Linked DNA regions of Homo sapiens: region 2 is linked to region 1. Evidence: fine-mapped expression QTL. A gene starts in region 1. The other region holds a variant in brackets. All regions are shown on one strand. Distances are from middle to middle. Region 1 holds the start of SPATS2L (spermatogenesis associated serine rich 2 like). Region 2 overlaps SPATS2L (spermatogenesis associated serine rich 2 like).

Evidence for each region. PIP is the estimated chance that this variant, and not a neighbour inherited with it, causes the effect. A credible set is the group of variants that fine-mapping cannot tell apart.
Region 2: its variant is the best candidate, but not a certain one, in a credible set for the expression of SPATS2L in lung (TOPMed, PIP 0.64).

The regions. Positions count from the first base shown.
Region 1 is chr2:200,305,034-200,307,945 of GRCh38, forward strand. SPATS2L (spermatogenesis associated serine rich 2 like) reads left to right here and starts at 1,660. Exons shown (of 13, transcript NM_001100423.2): 1 at 1,660-1,889. RefSeq lists an enhancer at 1,035-1,134 and silencers at 1,545-2,274, 2,295-2,624.
Region 2 is chr2:200,335,231-200,338,142 of GRCh38, forward strand. All of the region lies in intron 2 of SPATS2L (spermatogenesis associated serine rich 2 like), which reads left to right. Among named protein-coding and RNA genes, the nearest start is that of SPATS2L, 30 kb to the left of the region's middle. The variant A/T (reference allele first, on the strand shown) is at 1,178.

The DNA of each region.
Region 1 (2,912 bases):
TCTTTCTTTTCTTTTAAAGGCTCTGGCTCTGTTGCCCACACTAGAGCGCAGGGGTGTGATCCTGGCTCACTGCAACCTTAGCCTACCTGGTTCAGGTAATCCTCCCACCTCAGCCTCCTGAGTAGCTGGGACTACAGGCGTGCACCACCATGCCCGGCCAATTATTATTATTAGTTTTTTTGTTTTGGAGGGATGGAGTTTCACTATGTTGCCCAGGCTGGTCTTGATCTCCAGGGCTCAAGAGATTTGCCCACCTCGGTCTCCGAAAGTGTTGGGATTACAGGTGTGAGCCACTGGGCCCAGCCCTCAGTTTATCTGTAAAACAGGACAAAAGTAGTACCTACCTGATGGGGTTCTTCCAAGGATTAAATGAGCTAGTACTTATAAAGCACTTGCTAATGTCTGTTAAATAAATTATATTATCCACACACCAATCCAAGGCGACTATAAGGTAGCAAGAACCACTCCAAGTCACATAAGAAAATGAATTCCTTTCGTTTTAGCTCCTCTCTTTATTTCAGCAGTGCGTTGTCAACAGGGCCACATTATGTTAGCAGATTTGAACTTTATCCGAAAGGTGTTTGTATTTTATTTCAAATTATGAATTCCTGAACATCGGATTATGTACGATTCTGCAGTGCCCTCGGAGGCCCATTAGAGTCTGGAGCTCGAGAAGCATAACAAACTCTGGTCTGATATTTGTAAGGAGCTTGACAGCCAAGGAGCCACTCAGAAACAGTTATTGGTATTGCCAAAAAAAAAAAAAAAAAAGGAAGCTAAGAAGTCACCCTTCTAAATAAATAAATAAATAAATAAATAAATAAAAACCTGAATTGGAGAGCTGCCTGCATTTCACTCTACTGCCTCTGGAAGAAGAGTGTTATCTAAAGTGCTTCCATCATGAATAATGATTGAGAAACTGCTTTTACTCTCCCGACTACTGTACTCCCAGGCAGAAACCCACGGCTGAAGCCCACGATGCCCATGTGTAACTTGGTTATTACACACACGTTTGGAGCCCAGTGTGCAGACCCGCAGCGCAGAGGAGGCGGCGGAACACCCCGGGTTGGTCGGGTTTCCAAGGGCTGACCCGAGCTCCAGCACTTTTTCCGCGCCTGATTTTTCAGGTCATTTTCGAATGGGCTATCTTTGCTTACATTTTGAGCTTGGATCCTCTCCAGAAAGCATTACTACCTTCTAAAAGGAAAAACATCTCGTATTTGCAGACAGTGCTGAGGGAGCAAAGTTCATTTTCTCGGGTAGGAGAAGATGATTCTCTTGCAACACGTGCGGATTGTGACAAAATCTTTCATTAACAAGGGGAGTTTCGGTGAAGTGGAGGTTTGGGGAAAGGCGAGGAAGTCGGTCTGGAGCAAGCAAGCAAAGTGCGGAAGCTGTACTGGGATTCTTCTAGAAAGTGGGGTGGGAAAGGAGCTAGGGAGGGCGTGTGGAGGGACGAGATCTGTGTCAGAACGTGCGTGTGAGCGGATACAAAACCCGAGAGAGGCGTGAGCAGCGCTGTGTTTGCGAGCGGGAGCGAGGGGCGCCGGCTGGGGTGTGTGCTCCTGGTGAGTGACACCGAGGGGAAGGCGGGCGGGTCGGCGGGCGGGGGCAGCCTGCGAGGGGCGGGAGTGTCCCTGCGTGGGGCGGCCGAGCCGGAGTTGTGTCAGTGAAGGAATCCAGTCCGGGGGCCGAGCTGGCTGCGCCCTCCGCTGCAAGCGCCGGCAGCGCGGGGCGAGCTCCGGACGGCGCGCGGCCCAGGCAGCGGCTCCCGCTCGGCCCGCCCTCCGAGCCGCAGGGGCCGCCACCGCCGCGGCGCCTCCCCTGGCGACCGCGCCCCCGGGCCCCGGCTCCGGCCCGGGACGGAGGAGCCGGCGCTCGACACAGAGGTAAGCCCAGGACCCCCTCCACGCCGGGCCGGCTGGGGATGCAGGGCGCGGGCGGACGCGGAGGGGCCTGCGCGGCCGGGACGGAGACTCGGCTGGGCCGAGCATTCCGCAGCCCGGGCCGCCCAGCCTCCGCCGCCTCCCGGAGCGCTGGGTGTGGCCCGCGCTCGGCGCCGAGGCGGGCTGGTGGCGCGGACCGGACGCGAAGGTCGCCGTCCTTCCTTTCTCCAGCCGGCGCGGGCAAGCGGGAGGAGGCGCCGGCTGGGACGCACAGTGGCGCTCCCCGGGCGAGCGTGTGGCCGCCGCGCTCCGACGTGTACCCGCCCGCCCCGGATCTGAATCGCCCGCGGCCGCCGTCCCTCGCCTGCCGTCCTCCCGCGCGGGCGCCCCCGTTCCCTCCCAAGCCGGAAAGAGACCCACCGTCCCCCAGGCTGCTCTCTGGCCCGGAGCCGCAAAGCCCACGTCAGCCGCGACCACCCCGCCCTCGGATCCCAGCCGGGTGCGGGGGCCGCGGCCCCACTGAACCCCGCGCCCCTGGCGCCCAGCGGGAGTGGGATGCGTTGGCGTCCGCGCTGCGCGGGTGGGCTGGGGTGGCCGGAGCAGACGCGGAGCGCCCTGGCCGCGGGACGAAGCGGTCGCGCCGCCGCATTTGGGCGGGGGGACCCCGGAGTCCGCGGGCTGCGGACCCCAGCGGGAGACGGGGTTGTCGTAGGATGCGCTCGCGCTGGACGCCGGCGCACTCTGAATATCATGCTGCCGCACACGCGGGGCTGAAGGGCCGAGTCTTCACCTGCGCGGGGATGCGGCGGAAGCGTCGCGTCTTCGCGAGTGGAGGTTTCGTGTTCCCGCGGGGTTGGTGTGTTTTTGAACTTCACGAGCTTCTCATCCCCCCCGCAATCCTGGTTTTAGCAGATGTCGGGGTTTTGGAGACCTGACACTTTTCGTGAAAGATTCTTTCTGTACGTTTTCTTTTGGCTATATTACAGGGTTTGTAGCTTGAGAACTAGTGAAAACCCTTGAACTTCA
Region 2 (2,912 bases), 30 kb after region 1:
CAAGGAACTTATTACTGAAAGAATCGGATACCAAGACAGTGCTTACCTGAGGCGGGAGAATGGTGTGAACCCGGGAGGCAGAGCTTGCAGTGAGCCGAGATTGCGCCACTACACTCTGGCCTGGGCGACAGAGCAAAGATTCTGTCTCAAAAAAAAAAGAAAGAAAAAAAAAAGAAGATAGTGCTTGCCTCTAAGACAGGAAAGAGAAAGGACCTGGAGGGCTTCCAAGGGTGCTGGCAATATTGTGTGCTTTGACGGGGCTGGTAGTGACGTGGGCAAAATAAATGAATTTTTAAATTTACTTTCCTGTTAATGAGTTATAGTAATAATTTAAAAAGTTAAAAAGATAAAGTAACTATCTCTTTGGCCTGGCTTAGTTCACACCTTGTGTTCACACCTGATTTTAGTTCTAGAGATTTCTGTGATTATAACTGGCTTTTAGAAGTGAACGACTGTGTCACTGCATGGCAAAGTGGTCTCCAAAGTGGGATATGCACCCCAGGGAGCACTTGAGAAGACTCATTTGGGTAGGAAAAGAAATTGATTAGGACTTGCATTTACATTCATTTTGTTATCATGAAACATTATGGTAACTGATGGCAACTGTATTGACATTGGCACCATCCTTGAGTCCACATATCTGGGTGGTTAGGTATTGCCTGGGGCATAGGCGAAGTCTCCTGAGCAAAGAATGGGAGTGCCCAGCTCAGGGGCTTCCTAGTGGCTTCCCCACTGTTCCATCTGTCTTTGTTATATTGTGAAATATATTGTGCCTAGTTAACTGGATTTACAAATTCTATATTTTAGTTTTAACAAAACCTCACAAACTAGCAGAATTTTTAAAAGATTCTGGAAAGAATTCTCATAAGTTGAAGACAATTTTAATATTGCAAGCAAAAAAAGAATGGCAAAGCTTTGCATGAACTTTTTGTCAGCCACGTTATGAGTTAATGACAGGGACCACTGAATCAAATCTGGCAAGAAGCTGGCCATGAAAATTTTATGATACCTGGAAAACTAAGGGATTTATATTCACCTTGTTTAATCATGAACTTCGTCCTGTTCGTATTGCCTTGAGATATTATGATTAGAAAACATTGTATTCATTCTGTCATCCTTTTTCCATGTTTTATAAGGTATATAACATATTAATACAATAATACATGTATATGAATTT[A/T]AAAAAAAAGACACATACAAAATGTGAGTAGAAAATAACTTGGATACTACTGTCATGTATTTCAAAGGCTACTTACTGCTCATAGTTAAAATGTGTGGAAAAGTCTGCATATCACAGGCAGGTCATCATACCATTAAAAGACCTTAATTTTTTTTTCTCTTGTGAACCTATTAAAGTGTATTTGATTGTATCACAGCCATTTCTAAAACAGATGTGTACTGCTGTTCCTCACACCAAATGTGTATCCGATACATAACATTTGTTCTACCAGGACTTGAGTAATTACTAATAATATTTCAAGGATGGAAATGATTTAAATGTTCATATGTCTGAAAAATTGATGAATAACTCCCAAAACAATTCAAACGATTCTTTCAGTATTGCCCCTGACAAGTTCTAAATGTTAGTATATTGTCCCCTTTGGATCATTCATTTTAAAGCTGTGAAGAGTGTTGATTCCTTGTTTTTCAAGCACATGTACATATGAAACAACCAAATTTCATATTGTTCATACTTAGTGAAATTTTTTTTCTATTAAAAGAAAATGTCTTTCTTAGAGAAAGCAGATCGCTGAAGAGACAGATATGGTAATAACGATCATTAGTTTACTTGGCCTTGGTTTTCCACAGTGTTGAGTTATAATGTAATCTATAGTTCATCTTTTTAACTAACTCTCAATACATTATCAACCCAGTGCCTCACACTGTTTACAAGGATGATTTATTATTTGTCAGATTTTAAGTGCTAACCTATGAAATGTTAAACTTCTATTGGCAGCCACTGCAGGAAGGTTTGTAGGTGTCCTGACTAATGCTTTGAAAGACCAGCATTAGCAGTAAATCACAGCATACAAAATTTTTTAATAAAGTAATGGAAAGGATTTTACATTCTGGGTCATCTAAGCTTTGGTATTTGGAAGTTAGTTATGTGCGAAATTAAAGGGGTAAAACATTCTCAGGCTTTAACCCTTGAACTTTGGGCCAGCCATAGTCAATAGCAAAAGCATCTTGGTAGCTTTGTTCTCCTAACCCCGAGATTTCTTGGCTATGAGAACTGACAGAGTGCCAAGTATAGGCCTAATTGCATTCCTTGTTACTGAGAAAAAATATCTCAAAGGAATTTTCCTTTTCTTTCAAAGGGGTACCTGGGCATTTTCTGGGATAGCAAAATTGTTTATAAGATGTTTGCAAAACTTTCTGAAAAGAGAACTTGAAGAGGGCTCTGACAGCTAGTTGAAAGGCATGTGTGGCTTACCTAGAGCAGTGGAGAGTTCGGGAGATGCAATTTAAAACGTGAGAGAGATGTGGCTTTGTCCTCTAAAAGCTTGCTTGCTCCTTGATGCACAAGCTGATGGCCTCTCTTCTTTTTCTTTCTCTATGTTCTGCTCAAAGATTTAGCAAGACATTACATAAGATATTCAGCTAGCCCCATAATAGACTGCCAGCTGTCTAGGTTCTGCTTTGTTCACCAATATTTCCTGTGCTGTGTCCACTGCCTAATACATAAGACATACTCAATTAGTATTTGTTGAATGAACATATATATTCAGGTATTTTCTTCTATGATCTATATATTGGTGATTAATTTATTGAACCAGATATACTCTGAAACAAATTAACTTTTTTGTTGTTTTTTGAGACGGGGTCTCACTCTGTTGCTCAGGCTGGAGTGCAGTGGTCCAATCATGACTCACTGCAGCCTCAGCCTCCTGGGCTCACGTGATCCTCCCACCTCA